7 linked regions of the Homo sapiens genome follow. The protein of the gene in region 1 purifies or fractionates together with the protein of each later gene. This does not show direct contact. Each region holds a gene or a part of one and is shown in the gene's direction. Other genes may lie near its edges.

Evidence for each region.
Region 2: the proteins of ZBTB21 (region 1) and NAV1 purify together in Homo sapiens (affinity purification with mass spectrometry, with the first as the bait; one large-scale study listed by BioGRID). This does not show direct contact.
Region 3: the proteins of ZBTB21 (region 1) and HDAC5 purify together in Homo sapiens (affinity purification with mass spectrometry, with the first as the bait; one large-scale study listed by BioGRID). This does not show direct contact.
Region 4: the proteins of ZBTB21 (region 1) and CRTC3 purify together in Homo sapiens (affinity purification with mass spectrometry, with the first as the bait; one large-scale study listed by BioGRID). This does not show direct contact.
Region 5: the proteins of ZBTB21 (region 1) and CBY1 purify together in Homo sapiens (affinity purification with mass spectrometry, with the first as the bait; one large-scale study listed by BioGRID). This does not show direct contact.
Region 6: the proteins of ZBTB21 (region 1) and LRFN1 purify together in Homo sapiens (affinity purification with mass spectrometry, with the first as the bait; one large-scale study listed by BioGRID). This does not show direct contact.
Region 7: the proteins of ZBTB21 (region 1) and TESK2 purify together in Homo sapiens (affinity purification with mass spectrometry, with the first as the bait; one large-scale study listed by BioGRID). This does not show direct contact.

The regions. Positions count from the first base shown.
Region 1 is NC_000021.9:41,996,586-42,000,602, reverse strand, and holds part of ZBTB21 (zinc finger and BTB domain-containing protein 21), read left to right. Parts: intron 1-4,017. UniProt on the Homo sapiens protein: Acts as a transcription repressor.
Region 2 is NC_000001.11:201,541,610-201,545,626, forward strand, and holds part of NAV1 (neuron navigator 1), read left to right. Parts: intron 1-4,017. UniProt on the Homo sapiens protein: May be involved in neuronal migration.
Region 3 is NC_000017.11:44,092,246-44,096,262, reverse strand, and holds part of HDAC5 (histone deacetylase 5), read left to right. Parts: intron 1-2,428; coding exon 2,429-2,688; intron 2,689-2,777; coding exon 2,778-2,949; intron 2,950-3,056; coding exon 3,057-3,171; intron 3,172-3,456; coding exon 3,457-3,587; intron 3,588-3,735; coding exon 3,736-3,882; intron 3,883-3,978; coding exon 3,979-4,017. UniProt on the Homo sapiens protein: Responsible for the deacetylation of lysine residues on the N-terminal part of the core histones (H2A, H2B, H3 and H4).
Region 4 is NC_000015.10:90,637,485-90,641,501, forward strand, and holds part of CRTC3 (CREB-regulated transcription coactivator 3), read left to right. Parts: intron 1-961; coding exon 962-1,162; intron 1,163-1,250; coding exon 1,251-1,331; intron 1,332-3,557; exon of another isoform or gene 3,558-3,612; coding exon 3,613-3,715; exon of another isoform or gene 3,716-3,773; intron 3,774-4,017. UniProt on the Homo sapiens protein: Transcriptional coactivator for CREB1 which activates transcription through both consensus and variant cAMP response element (CRE) sites.
Region 5 is NC_000022.11:38,659,253-38,663,269, forward strand, and holds part of CBY1 (protein chibby homolog 1), read left to right. Parts: intron 1-4,017. UniProt on the Homo sapiens protein: Inhibits the Wnt/Wingless pathway by binding to CTNNB1/beta-catenin and inhibiting beta-catenin-mediated transcriptional activation through competition with TCF/LEF transcription factors.
Region 6 is NC_000019.10:39,310,477-39,314,493, reverse strand, and holds part of LRFN1 (leucine-rich repeat and fibronectin type III domain-containing protein 1 precursor), read left to right. Parts: coding exon 1-563; intron 564-4,017. UniProt on the Homo sapiens protein: Promotes neurite outgrowth in hippocampal neurons. Involved in the regulation and maintenance of excitatory synapses. Induces the clustering of excitatory postsynaptic proteins, including DLG4, DLGAP1, GRIA1 and GRIN1.
Region 7 is NC_000001.11:45,452,966-45,456,982, reverse strand, and holds part of TESK2 (dual specificity testis-specific protein kinase 2), read left to right. Parts: intron 1-4,017. UniProt on the Homo sapiens protein: Dual specificity protein kinase activity catalyzing autophosphorylation and phosphorylation of exogenous substrates on both serine/threonine and tyrosine residues. Phosphorylates cofilin at 'Ser-3'. May play an important role in spermatogenesis.

The DNA.
Region 1 (4,017 bases):
ACAAATGTTGCTTTTTTGGCAACGGGATGCATACGGTCTGTGGAATACCATTTGCTTCAGGTCCAGGGATGTAGAAAACTCCCCTTGGTTTAGTCTTCACACTAAAGGGCCAGGACAAGCCCTTGGAAGGGAGGTTTTAGTGTGAAGTGGTTAGCCGTTACCTGTGCTTCGAGTTCTGTTTGTGTCTTAGTTTGGATTCCCCCAAAAGTAGACCCCAAGACAAGGATTCAGAGGTAGACGTTTATTTGGGAACTGATCCCAGGAAGCACAAGAAAGGAAGTAGGGACAGTAAGGCGGAGATGGAGGCTCATAAAGGGTACATTGATGAACAGGTTGCTGCTCACGTGTAGGATATCAAAACTGAATTCTTTAAAAAATCTGAACTCCTGGTTTTTCTGTCAAACCCCATCTCTCCTAAGGATGCCCTTCCAGTTATTTTGGCAGAATACTTAACTCCACACCTTCTGTTTTCTCCTGCAGTCTGTCCACTAGAAATTCTAATGACTCTGCCTTTACCTCCGTTGCTACCACCCTGGTCCCAGCCACCATCCTCTCTCATCTGGGTCATTACAGTGGACTGCAAGCTGGCCCGCAGCTTCCCCCATAACCTACCCTCTGTTGTCTAATCTCAACAACAGAGCCAGAGCAATCCTTTGGAAATGTAATTCAGGTCTTTGTCATTCCTCTGCTCAGAATCTTCAATGGCTGTCCATTTCATCCATAGTAAAAAATAAAGTTCTTCTGGAGGTCTCCCAGCCCTAGACGGTCTTACTTCTTATTGCCTCTCAGATGTCATCTTACATGGCTCCCAGCACACACTGCTCCATCCCTCCTGTTGCCTTAGCTTCTCCCTTTGTTGTGATGTTCTTCCTCCATTTATCTCCATGGCTCATCCCTCGCCTCCTTCACACCTTCTTTGATCCCATTTTGATGAATGAATGACATGAGAAGTTTCTGGTATAGTTTGTAGTGTAGGTTCCTGTACAGTTAGGTGCTATATAAATGGTAGCGACTATTATTATCTTATTTAATTCCCACAATAGCATTATGTGGTAGCTGCTAGTATTATCCTTATTTTATGGCGAGGTAAACTGAGGCTCAAAGAGGTTGGTTAGCCTAGAACAGTGGCTCTCAAAATATTTTGACTGACCCACAGGAAGGAATACATTTTACATCTCAATCCAGTCCATGCTTGCTTATGTGGGTATGTACATATATATAATAGAAACAAAAGTTTCTCAAGCTCATAATTAGCCTTATGACATTTGATGCATTCTGATATTTTCTACTCTGTCCTAGTCATTTATTTTTTAATTGCTAGTTTTAAACCACCAAGTTGAGTTTAAGAACCCCTTTTGACAAAGACTATCCAAGCCTTTAAATCTGTACCTTTAATTCTGTGTTACAGCTTTTCCCTGTGGCAACATCTGAACTAGCTTTGTCAAAAATTATTAGTGCTAAAAACTCCTCAGTACCCAGCTGAGTCAATACGTGTAACATTATAAGCTTATGTCTTTTTCTGCTGATCTCTGTAAAAGATGGTAAGGGTTTCTTCATACAAATAGATGTAAAGAAAGTATAGTAGGATTAAGGAAAATTTAAATGACTAAGAGAAGAAAAAGGAAGGGAAATTATCAAGTAGTCACAAATAGAATAATTTTTTAAAAAAATAGAGGAATTAAAATTTACCATTTACTTTGAAAGGATGGTAGGCGGGAGTGGACAGAAACTTGGTACAGTCTGACCAAAGTAGTTGTTTGTGGACAGGCTAAAGGCATCATCTCTAGAAGCAAAGTCCTGTGTCTCAGTCGGTTAAATTGAGTCGCATCTTATCAGGGAGTCAGAAGGAATTGTATACCGTGTGTGGCCACTCCCAGGTTGACAGCCTAGGAGACTCTGGGCTCTTCCTGAAGAGCCTGGTGGCTGGGGTAACCAGCAAAGGCCAGAAGAGAACCTACAAATGAGCTGGGGTCAAGTTTGGTTCATCTACAGTTTGCCCGCTAGAGAAAGATAAAACCGTCACAGATAGTTACTTGGGATTCATGTAATCTTAAAAATAAATGTCTTAACAATATTTGAAAGAAAATATGGCATTATAAAATGAAAGGGATGAGCCAGCTGTGGTGGCTCACACCTGTAATCCCAGCACTTTGGGAGGCCGAGGCAGGCAGATCACGTGAGGTCAGGAGTTCGGGACCAGTCTGGCTAATATGGTGAAACCCCAACTATATAAAAATACAAAAATTAGCTGGGCGTGGTGGTGCACGCCTGTAATCCCAGCTACTCAGGAGGCTGAGGCAGGAGAATCGTTTGAACCCAGGAGGCAGAGGTTGCAGGGAGCCAAGACTGAGTCATTGCACTCCAGCCTGGGCAACAGAGCGAGACCCTGTCTAGAAAAAAAAAAAAAAAATGAAAAGGATGAGGTGTTAGAGGAACAGAAGCCTAAATAAAGGGTCAAATACACAGAGTCAGGCATTGTCTCTGCATGAAATGGCTTTGTCTGCATCGAGAGTATGGTGGGGTTAATCTGCCCACTTTCTTTGATACTGAATTAGATGCCTATTAATCCTGCAATTTCTGAAAGTTAAGTGCACATTTGTTGAGTTTTCTTTAGATGAACTCTTTGCAACAACCCTGCAAGAGGAGGGCACAGTTGTCATTCCTAACTCAGGTGAGGGATCTGCCACACCGAGAGGCTAACAGAAACACCCAAGGACAATCAGCCAGCCTGCAAGGAACTGGCATCTCAACCCAAGTGTCTGGCACCAGAGCTTGCACTCTACCACTAGGCCTCCTCTTCTCATGTTTAGATTTGAAGAGCATTTCAGTGAAATATCAGTTTAAACTCTTTAATTAAATTTAGAACTAGGCTAAAGTTTCCTTTGTGCTATTGTTGAAAATGTGATTTGGTAAGAAAATAGTATTCATGAGATTGCAAGGCAAATAGCATAAGAAAGAAAACAAACTTATTCTTCAACACTTCTAATCTTTTTTTTGTTTTTTTGTTTTTTTGTTTTTTTTTTTTTTGAGACAACGTCTTGCTCTGTCAACCAGGCTGGAGTGCAGTGGCGCAATCTTGGCTCACTACAACCTCCACTTCCCAGGCTTAAGTGATTGTCATGCTTCAGCCTCCTGAGTAGCTGGGATTACAGGCACATGCCACCACCCTCGGCTAATTTTTGTATTTTTAGTAGAGATGGAATTTCACCATGTTGGCCAGGCTTGTCTCGAACTCCTGACCTCAAGTGACCTGCCCGCTTTGGCCTCCCAAAGTGCTGGGATTACAAGCGTGAGCCACCGTGCCTGGCGTAAACACTTTCATTAGTAATTAGCAAATAATTTTTTGCTTTCCAAATTCTTTTCTATTTTTAAAGGTCTCTTGGCCAGGCTCAGTGGTTCATGCCTGTAATCCCAACACTTGGGGAGGCTGAAGCAGGAGGATCTCTTGAGCCCACGAGTTGGAGACCAGCCTGAGCAACATAGTGAGGCCCCATTTCTAAAAATAAAAAATAAAAAAAATTACCCAGGTGTAATTAGTCCATTTTCACAATGCTAATAAAGACATACCTGAGACTGGGTAACTAACAAAGAAAAAGAGGTTCAGTGGACTCACAGGTCCATGTGACTGGGGAGGCTGTGTAATTATGGCAGAAGGCAAGGAGTGCAGGGCACATCTCACATGGTGGCAGGGAAGAGAGAACTTGTGCAGGGGAACTCCTCGTTATGAAACCATCAGCTCTCCTGAGATTTATTCACTATCACAAGAAGAGCATAAGAAAGACCTGCCCCCATGATCCAGTTACTTCCCACTGGGTGCCTCCCAGATGTGGGGAATTGTGAGAGCTACAATTCAAAATGAGATTTTGCTGGGGACACAGCCAAACTGTATCATTCCACCCTGGGCCCCTCCCAAATCTCATGTCTTCACATTTCAAAACCAATCATGCGTTCCCAACAGTCCCCCAAAGTCTTAACTAATTTCAGCATTAACTCAAAAGTCCACAGACCAAAGTCTCT
Region 2 (4,017 bases), on another chromosome or scaffold:
CTAGAAATATGAAAATTAGCCGGGTGTGGTGGCAGGTGCCTGTAATCCCAGCTACTCGTGAGGCTGAGACAGGAGAATTGCTTGAACCCGGGAGGCAGAGGTTGCAGTAAGCCGAGATCATGCCATTGCACTCCAGCCTGGGGGCCAAGAGTGAAACTCCATCTTTTTTTTAAAGGAGTGCTGTTTTTCCTTTCTTGCCTAATCTAGCCCCCTCCTGAGTCCCTGTGAACCTCTGGTATCAACTCAGTTTGGGCCCAGTAGAAAGGAGTGGCCTAGAATAGAAAAATCTCCTATCCATCTTTTACAATTTGTCTCTATTTTTGCCTTCCTATTTCCAATCAGTGTCACTTCCCTCTTCTTTTAAAGTTCTTTTGACTTCTTGAAGGGTTTGGCCTTTAAGAAAAACCAGAATGTCAAAGTTAAAAGGATCTCCACTCCTCCCAACCCCTGCTCTTCTCCCCTTTACAGGCAAGAATCAAGGCCCACTGAAGGGAAGGGATGGGCTCAGAGCTACACAACTGGGGTACTGCAGAAGCCCGCCTAGAATGCAGGGCTCCTGGCTTTCAGTTTAGGGCTCATTCCCTTTCAGCAAATCACTGGGAATTTTTATCTTCCTAGCGTTTCCATCTCAGCAGATGTTACTTACCTCTTAGCTAGAGAGAGGAACAGAAACATATTAGGGTCAAGACAGCTATCTCTGTGATGGAAGCATCTATCAACTTTTCGAGTCTCTGGAACATGGAGAGCTAAGAAATGTGGCAATACTTGGCAAACACTTCGTCTTTCTGGCCCCTAGTCACACACAAAAAATAATAATTAAAAACACTTTTAGTTCCTTCTTCAACTTAAAAATACCCCTCCAACTAGTCTAGCGAAAAACACCCTCCACAGTAAACCGTTTCCTGGGCCTCATCTGTTCCCTTAACCTCCTGGGAAGGCTGACTCAGGCCTGATTTCCTCCGAGAGGCCTGCGATTTTGCTTCCCAGCATCCTGTGACTCTTGAGACGTGAAGCGAGGCAGGATGGCTGAGACCCAGGCCACTCTGACCTGCCTGTGGATGTGGTTCAGGTTCTTACACATGTCCTGTGCAGTTCACACTACCACCCCATCAAATCTATTTGCTCTACTTAATTTTAATATGAGATGCACTAATATGCATATAAAATTAAAGGCTCTGATGCATGTGCCTCTGCCAAGGACCGTTACTAACAAGATGATTCCACTTCAAAAGACTGCAAGACTGTTCTGATATCCAATCCTCAGATGCTCTGAAAGCTTTCATAAATGGAATTGTTTCTTAATTTCCTTTTTGGCTTGTGTATTACTGGTGTGTAGAAACACAGCTGATTTTTGTGTGTTGATCTTGTCCCTTGCAATTTTGCTGAATTTATTAGCTCTAGTAGCTTTTTTGTTTCTGGATTCTTTGGGATTTTCTATACATAGGATCATGTCAACTGTGAATAGAAATAGTTTTACGTCTTTCTTTCCAATTTGAATGATTTTTATTTATTTTTCTTGCCTAATTGCTCTGGCTAGAACTTTCAGTATAATGTTGAGTGGCAGTGGTGAAAGCAGACATCCTTCTCTTGTTCTTGATCTTAGGGGGATTTCTTGATTTTAGCCTTTCACCAGTGAGCGTGATGTTAGCTGTGGGCTTTTCATAAATGTCCTTTGTGTTGAGGAAATCATCTTCTATTTCTAGTTTTCTAATCATTTTTTTTTAATCACAAAGGGGTGTTGAATTTTATGTCAAATGCTTGTTTTCTGTATCACTCGAGATAATCCTGTGGCTTGTTTTTTGTTTCCTTCATTGTGTTAGTGTGGTGCCTTACACTGATTGTTTTTCTTAAGTTGAATCACTCTTTTAGTCCTGGGATAAATCCCTCTGAATTTTTTTTTTTTTATCTGCAAAGTTTCATTTTTTTTTCCCCTGTAAAAAGACAACAAAATTTGACTAAGTGCTAACATTTTACATTAGGATGGGTTGATGTATTTAATTATACTTTTCATTATAATTAGTGTACTTTAAACATCTAACAATTATATTGTGGTAAATATGTATAACCTACAATTTACCATTTTAGCCACTTCTAAATGTACAGTTCAGTGGCATTAAATGCATTTGCATTGTTGTATAACCATCACCTGTAGCCATCTCTGGAACTTTTTTACCTTCCCAAACTTAAACTCTGTACTCATTAAAGAGTAACTCTCCATTCCCCTTCCCTCCTCCCCAAGGCCCCGGCAACCGCCATTTTACTTCCCATCTCTATGAATTTGTGAACATTTTTTAATAACTAGAAGTTAGGCATTAAAGGGTTAAAGGGCTGTATCTTCCTGTCTTCCAGTTTCCCACCAACTCCCTCCAGCCGGAGGGGCCACCACTGGCCCTGATGCAGAGATGAACTGATTGCTGGTCATCCTGAGACTCAGAGGGCACCACGCCCAGCCTCAGCGCGGGCTTCATTTCCTCTAGCTCAGGGATTCTCCATCTTGGTTGCACATTAGCACCACCTGGGGAGCTTTTAAAAATGACCAATTCCTGGGCCCATCCCCAGAGATTCAGCTTCACTTGGTTTGGAATGTGGCTTCAGTGTCTGTCATTTTTAAAAGCTCCCTAGGTGATTTTGATGCACTGTGAGGGTTAGAACTACTCAATGGTTGAGCTGATTTACTCGCTGGAACCCTTGACTGGTCACAGCTTTCAATGACGCAATTCCCTCCCCATCTGGTCGGTAATACTGACCCACTTTACATCCCTTCCCTGATTTTAAAATCCATTTGTAAATAGAGTAAATACCAACTTCTGTAAAATGAAACTTTCAAAGTTGGAAAGAAACTTAAGTGTCATGTAGCTTTTTCTATTCCAGATACATCAAATCCCCCTAAAACATCCCCCTCAGAGGTCATCCAGCTTGGACACCTCTGTTGCTGGGGCATTCCTGCAACACTATGTTGAAATCATCTTATTCTATATTTGGACAGCTCTGTCTCTCAGAGTTCCTCATTGTATTAATCTGTCAGGGATATGACTTCCACCCATCGCTGAAAGATCCCAAAAGCTTAGTGGGCTTCACCAAAATGCATCCCTGAATAAAGTGGAGGATATTCAAAATAAGTCATGCAGAATAAGTGTGATTGCCTACAGAGTGTCAGCCTTTCAATATTTGGGAACAACTACCATGCATCTGTCCCCATCTTTTCTTCTCTGGTCTCAGCAGCCCCACTTCCTTCAGATTTTCACTGGATGTGTCCCCATGTTTTTTCAAGGAAGGTTGATATATGACGTAATAGCAAGATTGTGGACCATGACATAACTAAGACTTGAACTCAAGGTTCAAACATTGACTTTGCACCTGAAGTCCTTAGCGAGATGAGCATTTAGGAAATATTGGCAATTGAAATTATATCCTCCACATGAGCATCATCGCTACACTCTGTGTGACCTTGGGCAGGCCATGGAATCTCTTAGAGACTCTGTTTCTTCCCCAGGAAAAGTGGAATGAAAATGCCTTACTCCTGGGACAATGTTTTCCAACTTGCCTCAGCTTTCAGTCCTAACCTCTTCCTTCTCCTCCTCGTCATTCCACAACCCCACACCTGCATAGATTCCTATGATCTGGCAATTTCAAAAAATACAGTCAAAGAGTGATTGCATGAATCAAGTGAGACCATGTCAGACCTGACTCAGTCTCTGGGATGCTCAATGTGTGTGCTTAATAAATGCCAGATTTAATCTTTTTTCTTTTCTTTTTTTTTTTAATTAATTTATTTATTTTTATTTATTTATTTTTTATTTGAGACAGAATCTCTCTCTCTGTCACCCAGGCATGTAGCTTTTTCTATTCCAGATACATGTTGGCCAGGCTGGTCTCAAACTCTTGGCCTCAAGTGATCTGCCTGCCTCTGCCTCCCAAAGTGTTGAGGATTACAGGCGTGAGCCACTATGCCCAGTCTCATCCTATTTCTTACTCACCTTCCTCATTATATGCATCACCCTTTAAATGCTAGTTTCT
Region 3 (4,017 bases), on another chromosome or scaffold:
GGAGAGTGAGGGCTTTCTTTGGAGAAAGAAGTAGAAGAGAAACAGGAATGGGTTGGCCTGCCTCTCTCACTTCCGCCTTCCCAGGCAGTGGTATCCTGCCTTCCCCTTCCTGGCTGGAGACTTTGTGGGGCTTGGGCTGGGCTTGGGGCTCCCTGCTGGTGTGGTGTTTGCCCAGTTGTCCTGGCAACCACAGGGCAGTGGTGAGGAGTGACATGCAGTGACCTGAGAACTGTGTGTAGGTACAAAGAAGTGGAGACCTAGCCCTCCCATAAGCCCATTGGAACTTCGTGCACTCCCTGAGCCACTCGGCCCATTGTCCATGTGGGGACTGGACCCAAGGTCTTGGAACCCAGCAGGCCCTCCACTGCCTTCCCCTCCCCAGCAGCCTTCCTCTCCCCAGCCGGTTCTCCGTAAGACCAGAGTTCTGAGATCTCTGCCGAAGCTCCTGCCCTCCCCCTGCTGTTACCCTTCTTCCTGTCTGATTCCCTTTCCTTTCCTGTCTCCTCCTCCCACCTCCTCCCTGCTGCCTGCCCGCCCATCCTCTTATTCCCCCTCCCCCCAGGCACAGCTGCTGTTTGGCTCACTCTATATATAGCGGCATTTTCAGGGTAATTACAATAAAACTGTTGAAAGGAGATAATCCAGCAAAGGAAGCGAGTCTTGACTCCCAGCCCCCTCCTGTCCCTGGCTTGGTGCAGCCCTGCACCCCCTTTCCCCGAGGCCTCCTGTTCCCACCCCACCCCCATTCCCACAGCCTCTCCCTCCTGCCCAGTCTGCCCCAGATAGGGATGAGGCCCCAGAAGGGGACAGAGGGTAGAGATATCCAGAAGGTCTCCACCAGCCTCTCCTGGGGTTACCAAGGGCACTGTCAGTCCTAGAACCAACCTCTGTGCCTCAGTTTCTCTTCTAGTATGAGGCTTTGCATGGGGCACGGTGTTGAGAAATGGGAGCGGGCACAGTGGTTAAAAGCTTAGGATTTGGACTCATATTCTAGTTATTGGATCACCTAGCTGTGTCTGGTTGCTACTTAAACTTCTCTAAACCTCAGTTTCCTCATCAGTAAAATGGGGTAATAATAGCATCTAAGTCATAGGGTAACTGTGATATTTAAATGAGTCATTGTAAAATGCCCAGAGATGTTGACTATCAATGATAATATTATGTGTTGAAGGCTGGGCAGTGGCTCACGCCTATAATCCCAGCACTTTGGGAGGCTGAGGTGGGAGGATCGCTTGAGCCTAGGAGTTTAATTCAGCCTGGGCAACATAGTGAGACCCTGTCTCTACTAAAAAATTAAAAATTAGCCTGGTGCATTGGCATGCTCCTGTAATCCCTGCTACTTGGGAAGCTGAGGTGGGAGGGTTGCTTGAGGTCGAGGCTGTCATGAGCCACGATCATGCCATTGCATTCCAGCCTGGGCGACAGAGCAAGACCTTGTCTCTGATATATATATAGGTAGAGAGATAAATACACACACATATGTATGTGTGTGTGTATATATATATATACACACACATACGTACACACATATATATACACACACACACACAGATACATAAAATGCGTCGAGTAGTCACAATCTGTCAGGTACAGCTTCATGCTTATGCACATTTTCTTTATTTTTTTGAGATGGAGGCTCGCTCTGTCGCCCAGGCTGGAGTGCAGTGGTGCGATCTTGGCTCACTGCAACCTCCACCTCCAGGGTTCAAGCGATTCTCCTGCCTCAGCCTCCTGAGTAGCTGGGACTACAGGCGTGTGCCACCACGCCCAGCTAATTTTTTTTGTTTTTAGTAGAGACAGGATTTCACCATGTTAGTCAGGATGGTCTTGATCTCCTGACCTCGTGATCTACCCGCCTCAGCCTCCCAAAGTGCTGGGATTACAGGCAAGAGCCACCGCGCCCGGCCTCCCCCTTTTTGTTTTTTGTTTTTTTTTTTTCTGGAGACAGTCTTGCTCTGTCACCCAGGCTAGAGTGCAGTTGCATGATCTTGGCTCACTGCAACCTCCGCCTCCCGGGGTTCAAGAGATTCCCATGCCTCAGCCATCTGAGTGGCTGGGATTACAGGTGTGCACCATCACGCCCAAATAATTTTTGTATTTTTAGTAGTGAGGGGGTTTCATCATGTTGACCAGGCTGGTCTCAAACTCCTGGCCTCAGGTGATCTGCCTGCCTCAGCCTCCCAAACTAACCTGAGATTACAGGTGTGAGCCACCGTGCTCAGCCTGTATTTTCCTATTGAAGTTCATGGCTTCAGCCTCATTTAATTAAGGTAAAATGTTGCATCCATGGAGCAGAGGGATTTGACTTCCTCTCTGTCTCTGTTCTCTTTGGGTCTCCTAGAATCCTGCGTGGTAGCCTTTGGGCCTCAGGCATGACTGGAGTCTGGGGCTGGGCCCACTAACTCCTTCCTGTCTCTTCTGCCCACAGTGGAGGTGAAGCCGGTGCTGCCAAGAGCCATGCCCAGTTCCATGGGGGGTGGGGGTGGAGGCAGCCCCAGCCCTGTGGAGCTACGGGGGGCTCTGGTGGGCTCTGTGGACCCCACACTGCGGGAGCAGCAACTGCAGCAGGAGCTCCTGGCGCTCAAGCAGCAGCAGCAGCTGCAGAAGCAGCTCCTGTTCGCTGAGTTCCAGAAACAGCATGACCACCTGACAAGGCAGCATGAGGTCCAGCTGCAGAAGCACCTCAAGGTGAGCGAGGGGGGTGCGGGGGGCCGCCCAGACCTCCGATCCCCGCCCGGGCCTGGCTCACTTGTGCCTCCGTTCCCATGCCCCTGCAGCAGCAGCAGGAGATGCTGGCAGCCAAGCAGCAGCAGGAGATGCTGGCAGCCAAGCGGCAGCAGGAGCTGGAGCAGCAGCGGCAGCGGGAGCAGCAGCGGCAGGAAGAGCTGGAGAAGCAGCGGCTGGAGCAGCAGCTGCTCATCCTGCGGAACAAGGAGAAGAGCAAAGAGAGTAAGGCAGGGCCTCCTGGGACCTCGTAGGGCCCCGCCCGTGATGCCTGCCCCTGCCATGGGGGGTCTGGCCCCAAGCAGCCAGGTCAGTTGTGCCCTGTCCTGCAGGTGCCATTGCCAGCACTGAGGTAAAGCTGAGGCTCCAGGAATTCCTCTTGTCGAAGTCAAAGGAGCCCACACCAGGCGGCCTCAACCATTCCCTCCCACAGCACCCCAAATGCTGGTAATGGCCCTGGGCAGGCATGGGTGGGCATAGGTGAGCCGCTCAGGGGCTGCCTGGCTATAGGATGGCAAGGGGCTTCTTCCCCGTGCCCATATACGGGCCCTGCAATCTCTCCTTAGAGACAGGACCCCCATCCCTGGTTTATTTCCTCATTCCTTCCCCAAGATCCACGTCCTCTTCCTATATACAAACGATTTTTCATAAATGTAGATTGCCAGGTGGCAGGTCCAGCAGACTGGGTGATAACCTAGATCTGCTTCCATCCCCACCCCCCCCCCACCCCAGGGGAGCCCACCATGCTTCTTTGGACCAGAGTTCCCCTCCCCAGAGCGGCCCCCCTGGGACGCCTCCCTCCTACAAACTGCCTTTGCCTGGGCCCTACGACAGTCGAGACGACTTCCCCCTCCGCAAAACAGGTGAGTGAGTCCCCCACCTGGCCTCCCAGAATATGGCTCCTGGGAGGCAGAGGTGGGCTTGTGGCAGTGTCAGCCCTGACCCCAGTGGGCTCAGCTGCAGATGTGTGCTGCTGTGCGCGTATCTGAACCTCGGTTACCTTCTCTCCAGCCTCTGAACCCAACTTGAAAGTGCGTTCAAGGCTAAAACAGAAGGTGGCTGAGCGGAGAAGCAGTCCCCTCCTGCGTCGCAAGGATGGGACTGTTATTAGCACCTTTAAGAAGAGAGCTGTTGAGATCACAGGTGCCGGGCCTGGGGGTAAGGGCTGCTCTCATGTACCTGTTCTGAGGGTCTGGGAATCAGGGGTCGGGGGTAGTTCACAGCAGGCCCAGGTGACAGCCACTTCTCCTATAGCGTCGTCCGTGTGTAACAGCGCACCCGGCTCCGGCCCCA
Region 4 (4,017 bases), on another chromosome or scaffold:
ATGGCACGTGTATACATATGTAACAAACCTGCATGTTGTGCACATGTACCCTAGAACTTAAAAAAATAAAATATTAAAGAAAAAGAAATTTCTTCTAAACCCTGTGTTTTCAGTAAAGTGCCTCACCTTCTAATATCCAGAGACCCTTAGTTTTATTATCTCGAAAGTAGAACCTTCCAGTCTCCTGGCAGGTGGCAGGATGGTGGGGGCCAGTGCGCAGAAGCACACTCAAGGCAAGGGCTCTGCAGGTCCAACTGCCCCTTACACAAACTGTGACCAGAATCTCCTGGTTTTAGCTTCACCGCCTGCTCCCTGCTGTCCCCAGTCCCAGAGCCCTGTGGGGACTGAGTGCTGTCAGTGAGATTGCCTCCTGGTTTTTCCTCACTGCCAGCCTAGCATCGGGTTTTCTCAGCTCTGCTAAGCCAGCTGCCACCGGGCCATCTGCTGCTCATTTTCCAGCTTTTGTTGCCATTTTCTTCTCTCCCGTTATCTTTGTCCTCGTGTTGTTTGTTATCATTTAGTGTTCTGTGCTGTTGTTTAGTGTTTTTTATTAATGCTTATTGCTTGTTAATGTTGTAGTGTCTTGTTTTAACAGGATTTGGGGATGACAGAGCTAAGGGCCTTTTTCAATTTTCCACTTTTAACCAGAAGACACGGCTATAAAACAAAACAAAACATGATTTTCACGGAGAAAACTGAAAGGAAATTGGTTAAATTGGCTGTTTTCTTGTTTAGTTCTTTTAAGACAATAGAACTTGTCATTGAATGGAACATGCTTTGTGGGGAAGTAAAATTTGAGATATACTTTGAAGGATGAGAAACGGGCTTCTCACAGCATTGCACAGAACACCGCGGTGAGGAAAATCTCAGGCTTCCTCTCACTCTGACATTTCCTAATCCTAAAGGACTTAACGCCAGAAACGCAGAAGCTCATTAGTGGCTTTGTGTGTTTGTTTTGCAGATGGTGTCCTCAGACCGAAGCCAACTTTCCTTTCTGCCCACAGAAGCTCAAGCCCAGGTGTCGCCGCCACCCCCTTACCCTGCACCCCAGGAGCTCACCCAGCCCCTCCTGCAGCAGCCCCGCGCCCCTGAGGCCCCTGCCCAGCAGCCCCAGGCAGCCTCCTCACTGCCACAGTCAGACTTTCAGCTTCTCCCGGCCCAGGTGAGTTCTGGCAGGAGCGTTGGTGCAGAGGGAATGCTTGTTTTGCTCTGAGTTCCAAGCTAAATGATCATCTCCTTATTCCCTGAAGGGCTCATCTTTGACCAACTTCTTCCCAGATGTGGGTTTTGACCAGCAGTCCATGAGGCCAGGCCCTGCCTTTCCTCAACAGGTGGGTGATCGCCCCTGCCTTCTCCTCCCTTGGTGCATAAACTGTACCATTTAGGTTGTTCATTCTGTAGAATTCAGAACTGAGCAGACCAGACATGCCACTTTCCTGGTTCTGGTTGTGTTCTGTGGCTAGAAGAGCCTTTCATCTTCTTTGGCCCTAAAATGCTTTCTCTGGCTGCCTTATTTAGTATCAGGCTTCAGCAGAGGAACTATTGGAACAATCGGCAGGAGACTTTTGATGACACTCTCGTTGTAGAACTGTAAAATCATGAACACTGGAAGGGACACAGCACCTGCCTCCTCAGCGCCCTCATGTTGAAACTGAGGCATAGGGAGAGTGGCGCCTGCTCCCACCGCAGAGTCAGAAGGTGGCGCCGCATTTGGCCTGCACCCAGGCTGGTGCACCCAGCACAGCGTGGGGCCTCCTGGGGAGAGCTCAGTCCTGGGGAGTGAGGGGAGTGCGTTCCGTAAGGTATTTTCAACTCGGCCACTTTCTTTTACAGTTTAGTTTTTTCCTAACATTGACTATTTTTAATATTCTAGATTTTATAGTATTCAATAGTATTCAATAAGTATGGACTGGGCCCTCCGATGGATTAAGGAGTGGAAGAAGGGTTGAACAGGTTCCAGAACTTTTTTTTTTTTTTTTTTTTGAGACAGAATCTTAATCTGTCGCCTAGGCTGGAGTGCAGTGGCGTGATCTCGGCTTACTGCAACCTCCACCTCCTGGGTTCAAGTGATTCTCATGTCTCAGACTCCTGAGTAATTGGGGTTACAGGCATGTACCCCTACACCTGGCTAAATTTTATATTTTTAGTAGAGATGGGGTTTCACTTTGTTGACCAGGCTAATCTTGAACTCCGGACCTCAAGTGATCCACCCGCCTTGGCCTCCCAAAGTGCTGGGATTACAGGTGCGAGCCACTGTGCCCAGCCAAGAACTTAATAAAATAGCTGGGCATAGTGGCTCACGCCTGTAATCCCAGCAGTTTGGGAGGCCGAGGCGGGCGGATCATGAGGTCAGGAGATCGAGACCATCCTGGCTAACACGGTGAAACCTTGTCTCTACTAAAAAATACAAAAAAATTAGCTGGGCGTGGTGGCAGGCACCTGTAGTCCCAGCTACTCGGGAGGCTGAGGCAGGAGAATGGCGTGAAGCCGGGAGGCGGAGCTTGCAGTGAGCTGAGATCGCACCACTGCACTTCAGTCTGGACAACAAAGCAAGACTCTGTCTCAAAATAAGTAAATAAAATAATAATAATAAAATAAATTAAGATAGCTGTTTCCTAAGCAGGCCACAGATGAAGCTTTGTGGCAAGAACCAATCCTCCTTGCCTCCCTGTTTCCCAAAGAGCCATTTTAGTCTAGGTGGGAATCACCGTCTCCCTGAAAAATGATAGACACTTCTTTTGAGACTTTTTTTAAAATGGCTTAGAAAATTAATTTCAGGAAAGGAACCTAAAATTGGCACTGGTTATAACCAGTCCTCATAGAGGCTTTCTCATAGGGAGGAGCTTGCCTGAGTTTCCTCCTTCTGAGTGTGAAAAGGAAAGCCTTCCCCTTTCTCAGTTTTCTAGAAACCAGGGAAGAGGCCAGGTGCAGTGGCTCACACCCATAATCCCAGCACTTTGGGAGGCCAAGGCCAGTGGCTTACTTGAACTCAGGAGTTTGAGACCAGCCTGGGTAAAATACAGCAAGACCCTGTCTCTAAAAAAAATACAAAAATTAGCCAGGCATGGTGGCATGTGGTCCCAGCTATTTGGGAGGCTAAGGTGGACGGATTGCTTGAGCCTGGGAGCTGGAGGTTTCAGTGAGCCGAGATGGCGCCATTGCACTCCAGCCTGGGCAACAGAGACCCTATCTTTAAAAAAAAAAAGAAGAAAGAAACCAAGGAAGAAGAGTCCATACTTCCTTGGTTATAGACAGAGCCTTTGAAGGGTTCCCACAGAAGGCAGTTTGCAAAGGCCTTGGTGAGGCTGAGGACAGATGTCTGAGGGGCCACAGAAACCATGAGCATTGGTGTCTCTTGGGATGGTGTAGTGGGCTGGGGAAAAGTCACCACGCTGTGGACCTCAGGGACCCCTCCTCCACCCCAGCGTCTGCCTGCCTGACAAGAATATTGTGCATGCATTACCATAAGAGCAAAGCACTCTGGGATCCTGGAAAGAAGGGAATATGGATTAGTTTGCAAGTCAGGTTTTGCTCTGGGAGCACATTGCAATACTCACTTCCTCCTTGGAAACAGAGGTGTGGCCTTCCTCACATGACCTTCGATGCTTCCAGGTGCCTCTGGTGCAACAAGGTTCCCGAGAACTGCAGGACTCTTTTCATTTGAGACCAAGCCCGTATTCCAACTGCGGGAGTCTCCCGAACACCATCCTGCCAGGTGAGCGAGCTATCCCTCAGCTTCTTTACTGCTTTTATGTTGTTGTGTGTTCAGGAACCTTCATAAGAGAGTTTAAACAACATAATATTATATAAAGCAAAAAGTTAACGTTCCCTGGGTCGACTTGACTTTTTGAGATGCAGGTGTCCAGCCTCAGAGACCGTGACACAGGGCGGTGGGCCTGGTAGTCAAAGCCTTTTCTGAAAGATTTCATCTGGCCCAGTGCGGTGGCTCACGCCTGTAATCCCAGCACTTTGGGAGGCCGAGGTGGGCGGATCATCAGGTCAGGAGATCGAGACCAT
Region 5 (4,017 bases), on another chromosome or scaffold:
GTTTGTTTGTTTTTTGTTTTTTTTTGAGACAGAGTCTTGCTCCGTCGCCCAGGCTAGAATACAGTGGCACAATCTCAGCTCACTGCAACCTCTGCCTGCTGGGTTCAAGCCTCAGCCTTCTGAGTAGCTGGGATTACAGGCGTGTGCCACCACACCTGGCTAATTTTTGTATTTTTTAGTAGTGACAGGGTTTCATCATGTTGGCCAGGCTGGTCTCAAACTCCTGACCTCAAGTGATCCACCTGCCTCAGCCTCCGAAAGTGCTGAGATTATAGGCATGAGCCACCGTGCCCGGCTTAGGCCCACAATTTTATTATAAGAATGTGCTGGCCGGGCACGGTGGCTCACACCTGTCGTCCCAGCACTTTGGGAGGCCAAGGCGGGCAGATCACAAGGTCAGGAGATCGAGACCATCCTGGCTAACACGGTGAAACCCCATCTCTACTAAAAATACAAAAAATTGCCCAGGTGTGGTGGCAGGCGCCTGTAGTCCCAGCTACTCGGGAGGCTGAGGCGGGAGAATGGTGTGAACCTGGGAGGCGGAGCTTGCAGTGAGCCGACATCGCACCACTGCACTCCAGCCCGGGCGACAGAGTGAGACTCTGTCTCAAAAAAAAAAAAAAAAAAAAAGAATGTGCCACAAATTATTTGGCTACACCCAAATTGTTTGGATTGTTTCTTATTTTTTACTGTTATCAACAATAGAGAACATTGGGTGTGAGCATGTCCAAGTCTTTCTGGAGTGTAAAATTTTAGAAGTAGAGTTGCTGTCCAAAAAGTGTACACATTGACAATTTTGCCAAGTTTTGAGTGCCCTTGAAAGAATTATAGCATCTTCTGATTCCACCAGTAATAACAGTGTCTTTTTCTTCACATCCTCATCAACCATGGGTATTATTCATCTTTTTAATTTTTGCCAATATGATGAGTGAAAATGCATTTTTTTAACTTTTTTTTTTTGAGATGGAGTGTTGCTCTGTCACCCAGGCTGGAGTGCAGTGGCGTGATCTTGGCTCACTGCAACCTCTGCCTCCCAGGTTCAAGTGATTCTCCTGTCTCAGCCCCCCGAGTAGCTGGGATTACAGGCTCATGCCACCGCGCCTGGCTAATTTTTGTGTTTTTAGTAGAGACGGGGTTTCACTGTGTTGGCCAGGCTGGTCCTGAACTCCTGACCTCAAGTGATCCACCTGCCTCGGCCTCCCAAAGTGCTGGGATTACAGGCATGAGCCACCACACCAGGCCGAAAATGCATCTTTTAATGATGTGCCTCACATGTTACTAATACAAGGATAAGTATATACATGTGTATATAGACACACACACACCATATGTATATACACGTATACCATATATGTGTGTGTACAGGTACATACACACACACACACACACACACGCAGACGCATATACACCTTCAGCCAACTGATCATGGCTATGCACCTTGGGAAAATTGGGAAACTACCCCAAACCCTAGCATTTTCATCTTTATTTATTTATTTATTTTTGAGACGGAGTTTCACTCTTGTTGCCCAGGCTGGAGCGCAATGACACGATCTCCCTCACCGCAGCCTCCACCTCCTGGGTTCAAGCGATTCTCCTGCCTCAGTCTCCAGAACTTTATTCATGGATATTCCTATTTTATTTTTGTTCTGTCCTTTACATAAGATTACAGACATAAGATTAATGCTTTTCCCTCTTCTAACCTCTTTCTCTTCTCCAGCAGAAACAGTGCCAGGGCCTTACAATGTGTTTTGGATGGTGACATAGCATCAACCCCCCTCTGCATCTTGGTCCCCACCCCGTCCCCTCCACTACCAAGCTGGAAGCACTCTGGTTTGTCCAAGTTCTAAAGTGCTGTGCCCAGGCCCAAATGCCATCCCCTAAGTTGCTGGTCTATGATTCTTTTTATTTTTATGATTTTATTTTAGTTTATTTTATTTTTGAGACAGAGTCTCGTTCTGTCACCCAGGCTGGAGCGCAGTGGTGTGTTCTCGGCTCACCGCAACCTCCGCCTCCCAGGTTCAAGCGTTTCTTGTGCCTCAGCCTCCCAGGCAGTTGGGATTACAGGTGAGCACCACCACTCCCGGCTAATTTTTGTACATTTTTAGTAGAGACAGGGTTTCACCATGTTGGCCAGACTGGTCTCGAACTTCTGACCTCAGGTGATCCACCTGCCTTGGCCTCCCAAAGTGCTGGGATTACAGGCGTGAGCCACTGTATGATTGTTTTTAATTCAAACACGTAACTACCAGGAAAGCTGTCATGAGCACATAACCCCAAATACCTTCATTTATTTATAAATTACATATACATATACTTATGTATTGTATGTTTTACATACATTCCAAAGAAGCTTCTTAACTTTTATCATTAATTTTAGTGAGATCAATTTCTCCCTTAATGAAAACAGCCTGGAAGTTTTTTTTCCTGTTCTCATTGGATACATATCTTGCTGATTGTGATGGATTCATACTTTGAATTCTCTTTTAATGATAATGGATATAAAACCTTGTTTCAAATAGTCTTGAAAAGATACCAACCCCTCCTCCTGCCTTTTTTGGCCCATTTCTTGTCAGATCCAGTTAACCCGTTACTGCTTTTATTTCATAATGTAGTGAAGGAAGACCTTACGCCCAGGAGGAGCAGTGAGAGGTCGGCTGTTTTCTTTTTGCTCACTTGTGCCGTCATTGTTGTTCTCTTCAGTCTATGGCTTCTTAGAAGGATTCTTTGTAAGCTGTGTGCGTGATATAAATTAAAATTGAATAATATAGGCCAGGCGTGGTGGCTCAGGCCTGTAATCCCAGCACTTTGAGAGGCCAAGTTGGGCCAGTCGCTTGAGCTCAGGAGTTCGTGACCAGCCTGGGCAACATGGCGAAACCCCGTCTCTACAAAAGACACAAAAATTAGCTGGGCCTAGTGGCGCGTGCCTGTGATCTCAGCTACTTGGGAAGCTGAGGTGGGAGAATCGCTTGAACCTGGGAGGTTGAGGCTGCAGTGAGCCGAGATCACGCCACTGCACTCTAGCCTGGGCAACAGAATGAGACTCTGTCTCAAAAAAAAAAATAAATAAATAAATAAAATAAAAAATTGGGTGATATATGGGGAAAAAAAGAACACTAACCCCTGTTTTACATCATATACAAATATTAATTCAAGATGAATTATAGTCACAAATGTGAAATGCAAACAATAATATTACCAGAAGTTAACAGAAAATATCATCATGACCTTGGGGTAGGCAATTTTTTTTGGGGGGCGGGGGACAGGATCTCACTCTGTCACCCAAGCTGGAGTGCAGTGTCATAATCTCAGCTCACTGCAACCTCTGGCTCCTGGGCGCAAGCAATCCTCCCACCTCTGCCTCCTGAATAGCTGGGACCACAGGCGTACACCACCATGCCCAGCTAATTTTTTGTATCTTTGGTAGAGACAGGGTTTTGTTTGCCATGTTGCCCAGGATGGTCTTGAACTCCTGGACTCAAGTTATTTGCCTGCCTCTGCCTCCCAAAGTGCTAGGATTTATAGGCATGAGGCACCATACCCAGCCTGGGGTAGGCAAACATTTTAAAAATACAATACAAGCACTAATCATTAAGAAATAATAATAAATTGGGCTGGGTGCAGTGGCTTATGCCTGTAATCCCAGCACTTTGGGAGGTCAGGAATTCAAGACCAGCCTGGCCAACATGGCGAAACACCATCTCTGCTAAAAGTACAAACATTAGTTGGGTGTGGTGGCAGGCGCCTGTAATCCCAGCTACTCAGGAGGCTGAGGCAGGAGAATTGCTTGAACCCAGGAAGCAGAGGTTGCAGTCAGCTGAGATCACATCACTGCCCTCCAGCCTGGGCGACAGAGTAAGACTTGATCTCAAAATAAATAAATAAATAAATAAATAATTGGATTTCATTATAATTAAGAACTTCTGGCTGGGAGCTGTGGCTCACACCTGTAATCTCAGCACTTTGGGAGGCCGAGGCAGGTGGATCACGAGGTCAAGAGATTGAGACCATCCTGGCCAA
Region 6 (4,017 bases), on another chromosome or scaffold:
ACCGACCGCTACTTCTGGTCCATCCCCGAGGAGGAGTTCCTGTGTGAGCCCCCGCTGATCACACGGCAGGCGGGGGGCCGGGCCCTGGTGGTGGAAGGCCAGGCGGTGAGCCTGCGCTGCCGAGCGGTGGGTGACCCCGAGCCGGTGGTGCACTGGGTGGCACCTGATGGGCGGCTGCTGGGGAACTCCAGCCGGACCCGGGTCCGGGGGGACGGGACGCTGGATGTGACCATCACCACCTTGAGGGACAGTGGCACCTTCACTTGTATCGCCTCCAATGCTGCTGGGGAAGCGACGGCGCCCGTGGAGGTGTGCGTGGTACCTCTGCCTCTGATGGCACCCCCGCCGGCTGCCCCGCCGCCTCTCACCGAGCCCGGCTCCTCTGACATCGCCACGCCGGGCAGACCAGGTGCCAACGATTCTGCGGCTGAGCGTCGGCTCGTGGCAGCCGAGCTCACCTCGAACTCCGTGCTCATCCGCTGGCCAGCCCAGAGGCCTGTGCCCGGAATACGCATGTACCAGGTTCAGTACAACAGTTCCGTTGATGACTCCCTCGTCTACAGGTGGGTGCGGGTGCTGCAGTCCCAGGGCCTCCTCCCAAGCCCAGGGGGACCCTCCCTCCCACCTGCCCATTCCCTTGGCCTTCTTGCTCAGCCAGGGTTCTAGATGGCTGTGAGAGCTGTTCCCGCCCTCCTTTGCCCTGTCTCCTCTCTCTATTTCTCACTGTCTCTGTTTTTCGTGCTTATAGAAAATATTCGCTGAGCACCTACATGAACCCGACCAGGGCTGGGCACTGGAGTCCTAACAGTGACTGAGCTCAGCATGAACCCTGCCCTCATGGGGCTCATGGTCGATATCACTGCTCCCCACAACAATCTGATTGTGCACCTCTTCAGTTAAACATTTTGGAGCATGAAACACACACACACATTTACAGTGACATTTATTTATTTGTTTGTTTTGAGACTGAGCCTTACTCTATTGCCCAGGCTGGAGTGCAGTGGCACGAACTCAGCTCACTGAAACCCTCCGCCTCCCGGGTTCAAGCGAATCTCGTCCCTCAGCCTCCCAAGTAGCTGGGATTACAGATACCCACCAACACACCCAGCTAAGTTTTGTATTTTTAGTAGAGACAGGATTTTACCATGTTGGGCAGGCTGGTCTTGAACTCCTGACCTCAAGTGATCCGCCTGCCTTGGCCTCCTAAATTGCTGGGATTACAGGTGTGAGCCACCGTGCCTAGCCTACAGCGACATTTATATTTATAAATTATATACCAGTACTACTGAACCAACACATTGGGTACATTACAGAAACAGAAAACAAAACGTATGAGAAAAATATGTTATTTCCACCCTCACTTGGGTTTGAAGCCATTGCCCTGGTGGGGACAGACCATACGGTGTCAACAGACATTTTAAAAAAAGAGTTATTTTCTCCCATCGCCTCCTTATTTCTCCTTTCACCTCTCTGTCTGTCTCTACCTTCTCTGCCCTCGTTAGGCACAGAGCCCCTGCTTTGTGCAAACTCCTGAGCTGGGTGCTGGGGACACAGGGAAACCACCCAGACCCTGTCCTCAGGGAGCTTATAGCCCAGTAGGTCGTGGTCCATAGTACACTATGAGTTGCAGTCCTGGCCTTGCCATGTCTCTCCATCTCAGTAGTTTTTTTTTTTCTTTTTCTTTTTTTTTTTTGGCAGGGTCTTGCTCTGTCACCCCAGGCTGGAGTGCAGTGGTATGATCATAGCTCACTGCAGCCTCAAACTTTTGGGCTCCAAGCAATCCTCCTACCTCCTGAGAGTAGCTGGGACTATAGGTGTGCACCACCACACTGGGCTAATTTAAAAAAATTTTTAGTAGAGATGAGGTCTTGCTATATTGCCCAGACAGGTCTTGAACTCCTGGGCTGAAGTGATCCTCCTGCCTTGGCCTCCCAAAGTGCTGGGATTACAGGTGTGAGCCGCTGCACCTGGCCCATCTTGGTAGTTTTTTAGTATGGCTCTCTGCCACAGAATTGTCACACAGTAGGCACTTGATAAATGGTAGTTTGCCACATGGATGTCTCTCCTTCTAGCTCTGCCTCCCTCATGCACATTGTAGAGCACCAGTTAAATGCTTCAGTCATCTGCTTGGCTTCACCTGGAGATGCCAGCGGGGCTGGAGCTGTTTCCCTACCTGTGGAGAGCCCCAGCTCCTGGCTGTCAGATCTTCACCGAGAAACCTGCCTCTTGGCCTCCATCTCTGCCTTTCCAGTGTTTTCTTGGCCATAGGTGTGGCACATAGTAGGTGCTTTCCCAGTGTTGGTTGAATGAAAAAAATGCCTCTTGGCCGGGCGCGATGGCTCATGCCTATAATCCCAGCATTTTGGGAGGCTGAGGCGGGCGGATCACTTGAGGTCAGGAGTTCAAGACCAGCCTGGCCAACATGGTGAAACCCTGTCTCTACGGAAAATACAAAAATTAGGCAGATGTGGTGGCACGTGCCTGTAATCCCAGCTACTCAGGAGGCTGAGGCAGGAGAATCGCTTGAACCTGGGAGGCGGAGGTTGCAGTGAGCGGAGATTGCGCCATTGGGTGACAGAGCGAGACTCCCTCTGGAAAAAAAAAAAAAAAAAAAAAAAGCCTCCCTTTTCTTTTGTCTCTGTCTTCCTCATTTCCCTCTCTTTTTGATTCTGGTCCCAAACACTGAGTAGATGCCTACTGTGTGCCCATCTTGTGTTGGGCCCTGGGCCTACTGAGATAGGTTAGATCCTGGCCCAGCCTTACAAACATGAGGACAAACAAATGAACAAAACACAAACCTTCACAACGAACTTCCAAGCTTGATCTTCCCAGCTCCGCTATGAAGGCGTGATGACCCCCTCTCCATTTCAAAGACAGAAAAACTGAGGTTCAGTGGGGGATGTCACTTGCCCAAGGTCACACAGAAAGTAGCAAAGCTGTCCTTTATACACTGACACACATTTGTTGGGCACCCACTGCTTGGAAGGGAGATGGATAATATATTTCTGTAAATAATTCTGAGCTTCTGTGACTCTCCACTTCTCTGTCCCTCTCTTTCCTTTGCTCTGAGCCATGGCCACCACATGGTGGGGTGGGGGAGGTTCACAAGCCCCCAGACCCTGCATGGATGCAGATGTTGATGGCCCCCTGTCCCCAGCTGGGCAACAGACCCTGGGACTCTTCTCTTCCCTGTAGGGCCCCAGTTCCAGTTCTCCAACCCCCATTGCAGATTCCTATGCTATGGTGCCGCAGGGGTTAACTTCCTCACGCTGTCATGGGCGGAGGTGGCAGCCAACCAGAAGCCTGCTTAGCTGCTTGCTTTAATTCTGCAGCCAATTAGAGACACTTGGGCTGAAGCTTTCTTAAGGAGCCAGCCTCTGTCCTTGAAAAGGGGTGGGGGAAGCCCCTAGCAACTGGCTATTTAGGGGAAGGAGCAAGTGGAATCCAGGGCTCTGGAGAGGAGAGATGAAGAGAGGAGGAGGAAGGCTTAAAGCCAGGGCAGCCGAGGGTGGCTGGGGTGGGTGGCAGTGGTCTTTGAAATGGCAGTCAGGGGTGGGTAGAGTGGAGTTGGAGAAGTGGGTGGACCTTTATGAAGGGGCGGGGCCCTGATTGGAAGTCTTTTGGTGGGAGGGTGGCTCTTGGTAGTGGGAGAACCTCCTGGAGGTGGGATGACAGAGGTGGAGCTTCAGGGCCAGAAGGTGGCTCTGCTGGAGGGGAAGCGGAAGCATCGGAGAGATAAGCAGGCCTTCGGAGGTGGGGATGTGGCCTGTCAGAGGGGGTGGAGCTTGTTCTGCATGGTCCCACGAAGAGGAAGGGGCAGTCCTTGTCTCCCGGGACCCACCAAGAGTCTTTGCTGGAGAAGAGAGCTTGTGAGGTTGCATCCTGGCCATGCCAATCAATGTGGAACGGGCAGTCCAGGTTTAGCTGAGGCTGGACATGGCCCACAGTGTGGAAACGATGTGCTCAACAGAAGAGGGCCAAGGCCTAGCAGGAATGGCCCTCCAGAGGGGTAGATCT
Region 7 (4,017 bases), on another chromosome or scaffold:
TATTTCCCTGTTTCACTCACTCCCTCAAGAGAGTATTTTGTACCTTTTCTTCTCTCATCAAATCCCAGTATTTCCTCACTAGTCCTCATTGTCAGTAATTAATGAATTGCTTCCCAATTCACTGAGAAAATTGAAGCAAGCAGAAGAGAACTTCTGCAGACTTCCATTACTACAAATAGCTATCAACACACATCTTTACCCAGTTACTTGGCCTTTATACCTTGTACTATGGATCAACTACTCATGCTCCTAAGTCCATTATTTCTGTTTATATTGTACATTCCATTTCCACTTGCCTACTAATAGGCATTGCCTAAGAAATTCTCCCCTCTCTTTTCTACATTGTATTTTCACTACTAAGTATTACCATTAACATGTTAAAAAAATTCTTTTAAGGAAAAAAAAAACCCAAATATTTTGGCTCTGTTATTTCCCCTTTATTTTATTTTATTTTTATTTTTTTTGAGATGGAGTCTCACTCTGTTGCCCAGGCTGGGGTGCAGTGGCATAATCTTGGCTCACTGCAACCTCTGCTTCCCGGGTTCAAGCAATTCTCCTGCCTCAGCCTCCCTAGTAGCTGGGATTACAGGCGCCTGCCACCACACCTGGCTAATTTTTGTATTTTTAGTAGAGACAGAGTTTCACCATTTCGGCCAGGCTGGTCTTGAACTCCTGACCTCAAGTGATCCACCTACCTCAGCCTCCCAAAGTGCTGGGATTATAGGCATGAGCCACCGCGCCCAACCTATTTTATTCTATTATTTTATTTTATTTTATTTTATTTTTTGAGACAGGGTTTCGCTCTGTCACCCAGGCTAGAGTGCAGTGTGGTGTGATCATGGCTTACTGCAGTCTTGACCTCCCTGGACTCAGATGATCCCCCCACCTCAGCCTCCAGAGTAACTGGGACTACAGGTGCATGACACCATGCCCAGCTAATTTTTGTATTTTTTGGAGAGTTGGGGTTTCACCTTGTTGCCCAGGCTGTTCTTGAACTCCTGGGCTCAAGTGATCAGCCTGCCTCGGCCTCCCAAAGTGTTGGGATTACAGGTAAGAGCCACCACACCCAGCCCCTATTGTTTCTTTTATTAATAGGTATACTTTCCCATGTCTTGTTTTTTTTTGGACCAAAACAACTCCATAGAGTTGTCTCTATGTACCATTTCCAGCTTCTTTCTTTCTAATGTGTCTTTCTCTAAAATACTTTTTATTGCAGTAAAATATATATAACATAAATTTACCATCTTAGCCATTTTTTAAGTGTACAGTTCAGTGTCATTAATTACATTTACAATGTTGTACAACCATCTCCATTATCCTTTTCCAGAACTTTCTCATCACCTAAACAGAATCTCTGTACCCATGAAACGTTAACTCACTAATTCTCCCTTCTGTAACTGTAAATGGGTTCATTGCCCAATGCACACAGCAAGTCAATAAGCTGAGACTCCAGGTTGCAGCAGAGAAAGGTCTAATCATAGGGCCGCCAAATGAGGAGATGGAGGAAAACCTCAAATTCATCTCCCGTAAGAGATGGGGGCTAAGGTTTTTTAAGGGTTTTGAAGTGGGCCGAAGTGTGGCAATTGTTTATTTGTTAAAGAGTACAGGATGAAGTCATGGGACAGGGAGATGAAGAAGCTGTATTCTCTTGCAGATCCCGTTCCTCTGTGGGGGACTTCAAACTGGTTGCTGGAATTCAGGGGTCTGAAAAACATATTAAGCAATCCTTAAACAAAAGCCTTATGATTATAATGTCAGAGATCCTGTTATAGGAAAGATGGGGATAGAAATAAAATCTTAAAGTTTTATGACCCTAATGTCAGAAATCCTATTCTGTAGGAACAATAGGAATGCAAATAGTCAGTATCTAGTGCTATATGACTTTTAGCAACCAGGAAGTGGGCCAAAGTGCGGCCTGATTAATGCTTAATTATAACTATATTTCTGTCCAGAACCTGGCATGCACTTCTTGTGAACCCTGTGGGGGCAGTTTCACTCCCACCCACTAATATCTTCTACTTGCTGTTTTTATGAATTTGCTTATTCTAGGTACCTTATATAAGTGGGTTAATATAATATTTATCCATTTGTGTTAGAGTTAATTCACTTAGCATAGTGTTTTCAGGGTTATTCATGTTGTAGCATATATTAGAATTTCATTCCTTTTTATGGCTAATATTGCATTGTGTATATATGTCATATTTTATCTGTCGATGGTGGGGCTGTTTCCACCTTTTGGCTATTGTGACTAATGCTGCTATGGATATTGATATACAGGTATCTATTTGGTTCTTTGCTTGCAATTCTTTTGGGTATTTAGCTGTAAATAGAATTGCTGAGTCATATGAGTAATTCTATGTTTAAGAAAAGATTATGGTAAAATACATACAAAATTTACCATTTTGGCTGGGCATTGTGGTTGACGCCTGTAATCCCAGCACTTTGAGAGGCCAAGACGGGAGAATTGCCTGAGCCCAGGAGTTTGAGACCAGCCTGGGCAACATGACGAAACTCTGTCTCTGGGGGAAAAATAAAATAAAATAAAATAATAAAAAAATAAAAAATAAATCTTTTTCTTACTATCTTAACAGTATTTAATTATGTTAAGTACATACTTAACACAACTGTTAAGTATGTACACATGGTTGTGCCTCCAAACTCCAGAACTTTTTCATTTTGCAAAACTGAAACTCTGTACCCATTAAACAACTCCTCATTTCTCCATTCCCCCCAACCCCTGGCAACCACTATCCTACTTTATTTCTAAGAGTTTGACTACCCTAGATATCTTATGTAAGTGAAAACATACAGTATTTGTCTTTTTTTGACTGCCTTATTTCACTTAGTCAATCTATGTTTAACTTTTTGAGGACCCACCAGACTGTTTTCCGTAGTGGTTGTGCCATTTTACAGTTCTATCAGCAATATGTAAGGGTTCCAGTTTCTCCATGTGCTCACTGACACTTATTTTTCTTTTTCATGGTAATCATCCTATTTGGTGTGAAAAGTGGTATCTCATTGTGGTTTTGATTTGCATTTTTCTAAACAACTAGTGATATTGAGCATCTTTTCATGTACTTGTTGACCTTTTTTGTATATCTTCTTGGAGAAATGTGTATTTGAATCCTTTGCTCATTTTTGAATTGCATTGTATTTATATATTTTATATATAGGGAATATTTATCCCTTACCAGATATATGATTTGCAAATATTTTCTCACAATTTGTAGTTTGTCTTTTCACTCCCATGATGGTGTCCTTTTTTGCACAGAAATTTTAAATTCTGATTAAGTCAAATTAATTTTTTCTTTTGTTACCTTTTGCTTTTTGTGTCAATCCAAGGAATCATCACCAAATCCAATATCATGAAGATTTTCCACAATGTTTTCTTCTAAGAGTTTTATAGTTTTAGCTCTTACATTTAGGTTATTGATCATTTTAAGTTAATTTTTCAATATCGTATAAAGTAAGGGTCCAATTTCATTCTTTTGCTTGAGGATACCAAATTTTACAAGCACCATTTGTTGAAAAGACTGTCCTTTCCCCATTGAATGGTTTTGGCACCCTTCATGTCACAGTCAATTAACCATGTTAGAGAGGGTTTATCTCTCTCTCTCTCTTTTTTTTTTTTTTTTTTTTTTGAGACAGGGTCTCATTCTGTTACCTAGGCTGGAGTACAGTGGTGCTATCTCACTGCAGCCTTGACCTCCCAGACTCAAGTGATCCTCCCACTTCAGCCTCCCGAGTAGCTGGGACTACAGACACACAGCATCATACCTGGCTAATTTTTGTATTTTTTTTTGTAGAGTTGTGGTTTCACCATGTTAAGGCTGGTGTTGAACTCCTGGGCTCAGGTGATCAGCCTGCCTCTGCCTCCCAAAGTGCTGGGATTACAGGTGTGCACCACCATGTCCAGCCTCTTTTTTTTCTTTTCTTAGAGACAGGATCTCACTTTGTCATCCAGGCGGCAGTGCAGTGGCGTGATCATAGCTGACTGCATCCTCCTGGACTCAAGTG